Regions from separate parts of the Homo sapiens genome. Here region 1 is linked to region 2. The links come from fine-mapping of genetic effects on gene expression. A gene starts in region 2. The other region holds a variant in brackets. All regions are shown on one strand. Distances are from middle to middle. Region 1 overlaps HCN2 (hyperpolarization activated cyclic nucleotide gated potassium and sodium channel 2). Region 2 holds the start of HCN2 (hyperpolarization activated cyclic nucleotide gated potassium and sodium channel 2).

The links.
Region 1: its variant is fine-mapped to the expression of HCN2 in whole blood (TOPMed, PIP above 0.99). The same link has a PIP of 0.9 or more in T cells and blood mononuclear cells.

Annotation. Positions count from the first base shown.
Region 1 is chr19:607,119-612,582 of GRCh38, reverse strand. It overlaps HCN2 (hyperpolarization activated cyclic nucleotide gated potassium and sodium channel 2), which reads right to left. Exons shown (of 8, transcript NM_001194.4): 4 at 4,401-4,619; 5 at 2,178-2,324. It overlaps LOC107987266 (a long non-coding RNA gene), which reads left to right. Exons shown (of 2, transcript XR_001753828.2): 2 at 1,429-2,643. Among named protein-coding and RNA genes, the nearest start is that of HCN2, 20 kb to the right of the region's middle. RefSeq lists an enhancer at 1,364-1,673. The variant G/C (reference allele first, on the strand shown) is at 2,340.
Region 2 is chr19:587,699-592,920 of GRCh38, reverse strand. HCN2 (hyperpolarization activated cyclic nucleotide gated potassium and sodium channel 2) reads right to left here and starts at 3,040. Exons shown (of 8, transcript NM_001194.4): 1 at 2,344-3,040. The coding sequence starts at 2,975. It also overlaps the pseudogene LOC100420586. RefSeq lists an enhancer at 4,271-4,850.

The DNA.
Region 1 (5,464 bases), 20 kb before region 2:
AATTAGCTGGGTGTGGTGGCGGGTGCCTGTAATCCCAGCTACTCGGGAGGCTGAGGCACGAGTCTCTTGAACCCGGGAGGAGGAGGTTACAGTGAACCAAGATCACACAACTGCACTGGAGCCCGGGTGACAGAGCGAGACTCCATCTCTCTCTCACACACACACACACACACACACACACACACACACCAGTGGAAAGCTACATTCGGTCAGACTATCAGGTGATTTTTGAAAAATCAACATGAAAACCAAGGGTCTGGAGATGAATCAATGGTGTGGGAAGTCAGGGCAATTCCCCTTAGCAAAGGCAGCTTCTAAGGACGGCAGGAACGTTCCAGCTTCGTTCTGTGTGGTGGTTACACCACGTTCCCTTTAGGGACCAGCTATCGAGCTGTGCCCTTATGACCTGGGGCACTTTTTGGTACTTTTTTTTTTTTTGAGACGGAGTCTCGCTCTGTTGTCCAGGCTGGAGTGCAGTGGCACAATCTCGGCTCACTGCAACCGCCGCCTCCTGGGTTCAAGCGATTCTCCTGTCTCAGCCTCCAGAGTAGCTGGGATTACAGGCGCCCACCACCACGCCCGGCTAATTTTGTATTTTTAGTGGAGACGGGGCTTCACCATGTTGGCCAGGCTGGTCTCGAACTCCTGACCTCAGGTGATCTGCCCGTCTCGGCCTCTGAAAGTGCTGGGATTACAGGCGTGAGCCACCACGCCTGGCCATATGTGGGTTTAAAGATTTGACTTTGCAACTCCTAAACACCTAAATAATGACTAAGTAGCGTGGGTTGCCAGGGGCTGGGGACGGGGAGTGAGCTGGTGACTAACACCCCAGGTCTCCTTTTGGGCCCATGAGAATGTTCTGGAGTGAGGCTGTGGTATCGGGTGCAGCACTCTGTTAATACTAAAAGCCACCGCATTTTATGCATTTTGTGGTCTGAGTGTTATATCTCTACAAATGAATGAATGGAAACCGTAGTCATCAAATGCAATTAAACATTCTTGGCGAAGCGAACCGCAGTGTGTGCCTCCTGGGAGCAACGGGTGTACACGCCCCCCCAGAGGCATTCCCGGGGCCCGAGGTCCCTAGTGTCAGGCCCGTCCTGCCCGCCTCCTCGCCCAGCTCCTCCAGCCCCTCCTCGGGGCCTCTGCCCGAGCCAGGTGCTACACCGGGGACACCCTGCCTGGCTCACACACGGCCTTGCTGATGTCGCCTCCCCGTCCTCGTCCCTCCCCGCTTCCCAGAGCTGCTCTCTGCTGCCTGCGTGATCACGGCCGCCATCCCTAGGCCCCGCTTCCTGAGGGTGGGACCTTCAAGCACACGGCAGGGCACGCAGTCGGCGCTCAATAACTGTTTGATGTGTGTTGTGGGTTGAACTACATCTCCCAGAAAGACAGGCTGACATCCTGACCCCCGGTTCCTGTGAATAGGACCTTATGTGGAAATAGGGTCTCTGCAGACATGGCCCAGTTAAGGCGAGGCCACGAGGAACCGGGTGGGCCCTGATCCAACGACGGATGAATTTACAAGAAGAGACAGAGACACACAGGGGAGAAGGCTGTGAGCAGATGGAGGCAGAGATCAGGGAGATCAATCTGCAAGCCAAGGGCGCCTGGAGCCCCAGACGCCGGAAGAGGCAGGAAGGATCCTCCCCAGGGGCTCCGGGGGGGTAGCACGGCCCGGCCCACGCCTTGATGTTGGGCTTCCGGCCTCCAGGACGGTGGGAGGCCGAATCTCCGCTGTTCAAGCCACTCAGCCTGTGGGTATTTGTTCCCGCAACCCTGGGAAACTTGCCCAGGGTCACTCAGGCTACCGGAACAGAGCTGGGAGTTAAACCCGCTCCAATCAGCCTCAGTGCCCCCAGGACCTGGTGCTCAGCGGGGCCTCTGCGGCTCCTCCCTCCCCACCCCCTGCCCTGCTTCTGCCCCGCCCTGTCAGGCACAGACCCAGGCAGTTCTGCTAAGGGGGCAGCGGGAAGCAAGGCGGGGGTGGCGGGGGTCCTGGGGGTGCAGAGGCTCACGGGGCGGGGAGGGGAGGGTGTGTACGCAGGTCTAGCTCGAGTCCCTCCTGCTGCAGCCTAGGCACCTCGCCTCCCTCAGGGACCGGCTCCTGGGCTCCAGGAGAGGGAGGCCGGCCCTGTACCGGAGGCTGCCTCCCGCCCGCCCGGCGCCCGCCTCACCTCCCGCAGGGGCCCGTTGAGCTCGCCCAGGATGCTGTCCTCGTCAAACATCTTGCCCTGGTAACGGTGCTCATAGTAGTCGTGGATCTTCTGGCGGAAGTCAGCTGGCAGCTTGTGGAAGGACATGTACTGCTCCACCTGCTTGTACTGTGGGGAGGAGGC[G/C]AGGCTGGGTCAGACACCGCCCCCGGCCTGCAGCGGGCACAGGGGCACCTGCTTGTACTGTGGGGAGGCGAGGCTGGGTCAGACACCGCCCCCAGCCTGCAGCGGGCACACGGGCACCTGCTTGTGGGTCAGACAGCCCCCCGGCCTGTGGCGGGGAGATAGGCCTTCACACCTGCTTGTACTGTGGGGGGTCAGGGCTGGGTCAGACAAAGCCCCCGCCCACAGCGGGGAGACAGGCCTCCGCCACACACAGGGGCGGCCAGATTCAACAAGAGCAAATAAACATGCTTCTATTTAAATCAAAGTTGAATTCGTTTCAATGATAAATTCCATTTTTTTTTTCTGAGACACTGTCTCGCTCTGTGGCCCACGCTGGAGTGCAGTGGTGCAATCACAGCTCACTGCAGCCTCCGCCTATGGGCTCAAGCAATCCTCCCACCTCAGCCTCCTGAGTAGCAGGGACTGCAGGTGTGCGCCACCACGCCTGGCTGATTCTTTTATTTTTTGTGGAGATGAGGTCTCGCCATATTGCACAGGCTGGTCTTGAACTCCTGGGCTCAAGGGATCCTCCCACCTCGGCCTCCTGAGTAGTGGGGATTACAGGTGTGCACCACCCTGCCCTGCTAATTTTTTAATTTTTTGTAGCGATGAGGTCTCGCCGTGTTGCTCAGGCTGGTCTTAAACTCCTGACCTCAGGCGATCGGCCTGTCTCGGCCTCCCAGAGTGCCGGGATTACAGGCAGGAGCCACTGCACCAGGCCGGGTGCCCTGAACTTTATCTAGCAACCCTATCCCTGAGGAATGGGTGGGCACCTGACTCTACGAGGAGAGGCCCCAGGTACCCTGACACACAGGACCCCCTTCCCGGGGGCTCTGGCCCTTCCCTGATGATCTTTCCAGAAACCATCGGGTCAGCCCCTCCTGAGCAGGGAAGGGAGCGTGGGTGCTGGGCGGGGGTGCCAGGCCCTGCTGTCCCCAGGACGGTGCCCCCCGGCAGCTCCAGCCTCACTTCCGCCCCAGCCCCGCCCGGCCGCAGCTGCCCTGAGCTCAGCGGAACCCGTGACGGCGGGCGGGTGGTGGCACCAGCTTATGTTTGGGTGTGAGGCCCGTGGCTTCCGGACAGCAGGGCGCCTGGCACGGGGCCCAGCTGACCCAGCCAGCCACTGCTCGGGGCGCGGGAGAGGGGGGCACTTGGCTCCCAGCCAGGACCAGCCAGCCGCCTAACATGGGGAAACTGAGGCACAGAGTGGTGCATGAGGCCCAACTCCAGGGGCTGCCAATGGGGCCAATCCTAATCTCCCTCCACCCCTCCCAGCTCCCCCGTGTCCCCTCCACTGCCAAGCCTAGGATTAACCCAATGGACGCTGCAGGCCAGAGGCCGCATCTGAGCAGTGGGGCAGCCTTGCTCTCCCTGAAGCCTGGCCCTGACTGCCGGCCACCGGCGTGTCCTGAAGCAACCCCAGGCCTCTCAGACCCCGCCAGGCCCTTCCCTAACCCAGCCCCATCCTGAGCCGGCCTAGAGACCCCCAGGTGGGCCCAGCCTCCTGGCAATGCCCCTTCAGCCCGGGGGCTTCCCGATGTCCAAAGACTGACCCTGTCCTGCCCTGATCCCAACTCACCCCTTCCTGCCCAGCCTGCATCCCCTCCCCAGCCCCCGCCCCACGTCCATCTCCAGGCTCTGGACCTCCCTCCCTGTCACAGGGTCAGAGAACCTCTCACCACCGGCCGTTTCTCCTCCTAATCACAGCCACAGACCCCCAGGGTCCCCTGCTCCCCATCACGCGGTCTCTGCCCTGAGCGCGCCACTTGAAGCTGAGTGAAGGGCTGAGACTGCCTCTCCCCTCAGACCCCGGGGCCGGGCCCGCCCCTCCCCTCAGACCCCGGGACAAGGACTACCTCCGCCCTCAGACCCCAGGGCAAGGCCTCCCTCCAGCCTCAGACCCCAGGACCGGGCCTGCCTCCCTCCATCAGACCCCAGGGCCTGGCCTGACTCTCTCTCAGACCCCAGATCCAGGCCCGCCTCCCCCATCAGAACCCAGGCCGGGGCCCGCCTCCCTCAGACCTTCTCCTGGTACTGGCGCCGCGAGGAGTCCAGCGACTGGATGAGGGCAGTGGCGTGGCCGATGAACATGGCGTAGCAGGTGGCACCCACAATCATGCTGAGCATGGTCAGCCAGATGTCCGTCATGCTCTCGGGCGCCTGCCGGCCGTACCCGATGCACAGCATGTGGCTCATGGCCTTGAAGAGTGCGAAGGAGTACAGTTCACTCCACGAGTGGTTCTGCAAGGCCAGCAGGAGGGGCGGTGGTGGGCAGGTGCTCACGCCCCAGGAGCCCTCGGTCCTCAAGGGCCCAGCGCCCACCCTCTGCCAAGCACTGGAGGTGGTGAGCTCCCCATGTTCAGAGGTAACCAAGAGAAATGGAGACCCAGGTAGATGACATGGTTTGCACACTTGTCACAGTGAGTTGGCAGGAGGGCCAGGGCTGATTCTACCTGCCCGCTTCACTCCTGGGGAAACTGAGACCCCAAGGGCGAGAGTCTGGGTCCCGCCTTTTGCAGCCTCTGAGATCAGAGCATCTGTGAGGTCAAGAGGGGGCAAAAGTTCCAGGGAGCATCTGGGCCAGAGCAGAGGGGCAGGGCGGGCAGAGACACCAGGCCGGCCCAGGAGGTCCTGCCGCACCAAGTCCTCAGCTGACCCGGCCGGGAAAGGGGAGCCGCGGGGCTCTGTTCAGGAAATGGGACCGCATGTGCGGGTGGCAGCCAGACAATGGGCTGCCTCAGCCTGGGCAGCTGTGCCAGGCTCTGGGGAGGGGCACTGGCGGGTCTTCCCTCTGTAGCTCCTGACCCCATCAATGCCCACCTGCTCTGTGTCCAAACCAAACACATCCCAAGTCCCATATGTGGCTGGACGCTGGGGCACAGCACTCCCCAGGCAGGGACAAAGGCTCACTGGCCACTAACCTGACTGTAGCGGCCGAGGGCTCCCATAACTAACCCTTCTTAACAGTCAGCACATCTCAGCTAGGAAGCAAGGAGTATCTGGGACCTAACTTCATTTATTATTCCTTCTTTTTTGACGGAGTTTCGCTCTTGTCGCCCAGGCTGGAGTGCAGTGGCACGATCTTG
Region 2 (5,222 bases):
CCAAGACACCCAGCCAGGCACAGGAGGCCTTGGGCCCGAAGCCAGTTGGGGCCAGGCTCCTGAGTCAGCTGCAAACGTAGAGGCCCCTTCGCTTGCTGTGGGCTGCCCCAAAACACCCTCCACAGCAGGGTCCGGCCGCCTGCTTAGGGAGCTTTTGAGATATTCTTGGGGGTCTTTTTCCACACTGATTCCACACTGGCACAGGTCCCAAGCCTGGGGAGGGTCCTAGGGGCCCCGTGCACCCAGCTTGGCAACATCGAAATCCTTTTTTAAAATCTGACTGCCGTGACTCCCCTAGTCCCGAAGACAGGCCCCGCTAACCCCATTCCCTGCCTGCTCAGTTCCACTTCAACACTCATCTGCCGGGGTGGGGCTGCACTTGGTCCACACAGGGGCCTCTGAGCCCTCTATGCCTCAGAGCACAGAGCGGGGCCACAGCCTGCCCAGGCCTCCAGGCGACCACGCCCAAGGAGGGTGGAAGGATGAGAGGGCTTCACTCCTACCACCGGCCTTCCCCCCAAGCCCCGGGATCAGCCATCTGCCCACCTGCCCCCCAGGCCACCGACCGCCCCTCTGCAGCCAGGGGGTCGCTGGAGCTGCCCAGGGGAGGGAGTGGCTGGTGTGGGCCTCCACCTGCCAGCCCCCACGCTGCGGTGCACCCATCTCTGTCGAAGGTCATGCTGGAGGGGACGGAGGGGAGTGGGCACGTTCTACAGCTCCCTCTCCACCGCGTCCCTCTCCGGTCAGGGGGTGCCACTGCCCGACTGGAAGTGGGGCCAGGCCGACCAGCAGCCCTGGAAGTCCAGTCCTTCCCGCTCACTGTCCACATTTCGCAGGCCAGAGCCCAGATGCTGACCAAGCTCTCCCGGTGGGGCACAGAGGCAGGGTGGGAGGGGCCGGACACAGCCCCTCTGGGGATTTCGGGGCTCCTCCCACCCCTGGCCTGTCTCGAAATCCAGGCTTCTGGTCAAAGCTGTATTCACCTCTCAGGAAGGCCTGGGGTGGGAGGAGGATTCCAGGGCCTTCCTCCAGGCTCTGTCCAGGACGCATGTGCCCCAGGCCTCAGTTTCTCCAGTCAAGCACTAGGGGTGCAGAGAATCCAGGGGAAGAGAGAACCCCACAGCCTCCCTGCCCAGTTCCGGGGGTCCAGGGTCCGTGGGGGCTGTCCTGGGGCGCCCAGGCCTGGAGGAGGAGAGACAGGCGGGAAAACCGCAGGCTTCCCAGGTCCGGCGCGCTGTCCGTGGTGCTGAAACCGCGCCCGTCCCGCGCGCCCGGCCTCGCTAGCCCGGCGGGCCCCACCTACACCCTCCACCTGCACCCTCCACACCCCACCTCACACCCCACTCGTGGATACACAAACACACACGCATCCCTCCATGGTCGCGTGTGTGAGACCTGCCTGCGGCTCACACTACTGCCCACCGGTGCACACCGGCCCCGGGCGTACACGCGCACGCCCGCCACCTGGTCCCAACACACACAAACCACACGTCCCACCAAAATAAACCCACCGGAGGCGCACACGCCCGCGACCACCACGCAAACACACTCCTGGAGACACACCTCTCCGGCCACAGGCTCGCGCCCCGGGAACCCCGCCGCGGTCACGGGCCCCTGTTCACACACAGCCCACGGGGACACGCGCCGGTCTCGCTCTCCGGCCACAGCACGCACAGCCCAGGAACCACGACCGCAAACATCAGTGGCGGTGGCCCCGCGCCGGCCCTGCTCCGAGCCTTCCACGCATTAGCCGGCTGGATCCACAGCGGCGTCTACACACCCACCGCCGCATGCGCGCACCGCCCGCGGCTCGGGTGGAGCGGCTCCCGGGGACACAGCCTGGGGACCCGCACGCTTTCCAGGCCCGCGGCCCCGGGCGCGCCTCCTCGCAGGCGGGGCGCGGGTGGACGCCGTGGGAGCCGCTTAACCCCCTCTCCCCCGGCCTCCCTGGGGCGCGTCCTTCCCGGGCGCCCTTCGTTCCTCCTCCCTCCCGCTCCGCCGCCTCTCTGGGGCCCACGTTCCCCTCTATTCGTCCTCTCTGCCCCTCTGCGCTCAGACCCTGGCCCTGCGGCCCACCCCACCCGCCGCGCCGCAGGGCGGAGGATGTCGGGGTGCGTGGGAGGGGGGCGCTCCGCGGTCACCCGGGGAGCCCCCCCAGAGGCGGAGCCTCGCGCGCCGGGGTCACTCCGGGGCGGGTCCCGGACACGCCCGAGGTCACCGAGGAGCCCCGAGGTCACCGGCCCGGCGCGCCGCCCCGCCCTCCCCAGGCGCTCCAAGGACGGCTCCCCGCGCGCCCGGCTCCCCGGGCCCCCTCGCGCCGACCGGCCCTCCCGGAGGCGGTACCTGAAGTCGCTGTACGGGTGGATGATCCAGGCCCCCGCCGACTTGACGCGCTCCTGCTCGCGCTCCACGGCCTTCTGGCTGCCGAACATCCGCAGCGAGAACTTGTTGACGCCCGGCTGCAGGAGCGCGCCGAACTGGCGCTGCATGAAGCTGGCCTGGCTGCCGCGCGGCTCCCCCGCCGGGCCCGCCTCCTCGCTGCCCGCCTCCTCCGCCGGCCCCGGCCCCGGCGCGGGCCCCGAGGCCGCCCCGCGGCACGAGAACGACACCTTGGGCCCCCGCGCCGGGCCCTCGGGCCCCGCGGGGCTGCACTGCGGCTCGCCGCGCCCGCACTCGCCGTTCGGGCTGCCCTTGGCCGTGCTCGCCGCGCCCGGGGTGCCGGGGCGGCCGCACGAGCTGTCGCGGCTGCGGAGCCGGCCCCGCGGGCCGCCCTCATCCGCCGCCTCCGGGGGCAACGCCTCGGCCCGGGGCGGGTGCTGGGGGGGCGCGGGCCCGGGGCCCGGGGGGGGCGCGGGCGGCGGCGGCGGCGGCGGCTGCTGTTGGGGGGGCGCGGGCGGCGGCGGCGGCGGCGGCCCCGGCGCGGGGGTCGCGCCCGGGCTCTCCCCGGGCCGCCCGCCGCCCCCGCGCGCGTCCATGGCGAGGCGGCGCCGGGCAGTGCGGAGCGGAGCCGCCGCCGCCGCCGCCGGCCGGAGCCCGAGGGAGGGGGGAGGCGGGGGCGGGGCGGGGCGGAGCCGCGGGGGGCGGAGCCTCGCGGCGGGGGAGGGGCGGGGGAGGGGCGGGGGCGGGAGACCCGCCTCGGCTGCGCCCCCTCCCCGCGCGCCGCCTCCGCTCGGCGCCGGGAAACTCGGGCCGCGGGGTCGGGGGCGCCCCAAGGTCACGCGGCCCGAGGCCTCGGAGCCCCGCGCGGGCCTCTCCCCAGGAGGGGAAACTGAGGCCCGCGACGTGTAAGGACGCGCCCAAGGTCACCGGGCCCCGCTGCCCGGCCGGAGCCGCCTCTCCTGCGCCGCGGCTTCCACCTCTGTCCGGAGGGCACCGGCGCGGGGAGGGTGGACGCGGGCCTGGGAGACGGGAGAGGCCGCCACGGCCAGCGCCTCCTTGCTTTCTGTGAGGTTTGAAGACTTCCACGACGAAAGGGTGTTTCTAAAGGTCACAGGAGCCCTTGCTGGGTCGCCTGTGGGCCCTGGACAGAGACCCTTGAGTGCGTGGGGAGGGGCAGGCCGGCTTGGGCGCCGTTCTGGGAGACTCAGGCACTCCTCTCCCTGGTCTGCATTTGAGGAAACTGAGGCCAAGCCCAGCCAGACAAGGAAAACTGGAAAAGCCACCCGAGGGTGTGGGGTTCCCACCCACCCCTCAAACAGTGCCCTGGGGAGCCGTGCGGCGGGGGTCTCCTCTAGGTCTGGTGGGCTTTAGATTGGGGTCACAGGGAGACCCAAAGCCCACTAGCGCCTTCGCACGGGTACCAGAGCCCCCTGCCCCGGGGTTGCCTCCTTTCCCCGACCCCTCGGACTCCGGGTGCAGCTGTGCCCCCAGTGCCTCCAGTCCCCAGCTCTGAGACAGGTGCTTCCCAAGGCTCTGCTTCTGGGCCGAAGCCGGCTGGGCGTGGGTGCTGCTTGGTGCCAGGTGACATGAGGCCTCTGTCCCTAGCCACCCAGCCCACCAGACAGCCGGGAGGGGGCAGGTGAGGAAGCTGGCAAGTGAGAGAGAGGAGACAGACAGTCACACTCGAAGAAGTGGAGGCTGAACATCCCCACCTGGAGGCAGGAGGCCCTCCTGGGACCCTCCTGGCACCTGGCCTGACGTCCTCTCAGCCACGATGTCCCGTGTGCCGGGTGCCCCCCACCCATCTGCACCTCGAGGCCACCGGGGCAGAGATGGCCCTCTTCCTACACCCAGGAGGCACTCAGTGGTACTTGAGGGAGGGCCAGCATGTGCCCGGCTGACAGTGGATGGGCTGAGCCCGACCGTGTCTCTCGCCTCGGCCTGGCTGCCCCACACCCTGGGGATCCCTGCGCCCCCACGCCGGCCCCGCCGGCCACCTCCGCATAGGCGGGCAGGACAGCTGTTTGTCCCAAGGTGGTGCGGGAGAGGCCGGGCGGGCGGCACAGTTGGCAGTGCCAGGCTGTGGCCCGCCCCGAGGCAGATGCGTGCTCCAGCTGAAGGGGGTTCTTTTATGTTCACCCTGGGAAGATGTCAGGCCGGGCAGGTCGCCAGAGCCCCAGGGCTCGCGGCTGGGAGCAGGGAGGAGGCGGGACCCGCACGGCACGAGAACCGCCCATGCCTGGCAGTGGGAGAAGCAGAAAGACGCCTCCTGCAGGCGCCGGCAGAACCCGCAAGTCACAAGGGAGGCTGTGGCTCGGGGTCCTTGTCACCAGATCCTGGCGACGGCTCTGCAGCCCACAGGCTTACCCAGGCCAGCGCCTGTCAGTGTGCACGGGGACCCTCCCTGGCCTCGGCACACTCACTCTGACCCCTTGCCCAGGCCGGAGTACTCTGTATTTATCTGTTTATTTATGTATTTATTTATTTTTGAGTTGGAGTCTCGCTCTGTCGCCGCCCAGGCTGGAGTGCAGTGACGTGACCTCGGCTCACTGCAACCTCCGACTCCCGGGTTTAAGCGATTCTCCTGCCTCAGCCTCCGGAGTAGCTGGGATTACAGGCGCCTGCCACCACGCTCGGCTAATTATTGTATTTTTAGTAGAGACAGGGTTTCGCCATGTTGGGCCAGGCTGGTCTCCAACTGCTGACCTCAGGTGACCCACCCGCCTCGGCCTCCCAAAGTGCTGGAATTACAAGTGTGAGCCACCCCCCCAGCCATGCTCATTTATTTTAATTTAAAAAATATTTAAAGATTGAGACCAGCCTGGCCAACATGGTGAAACCCC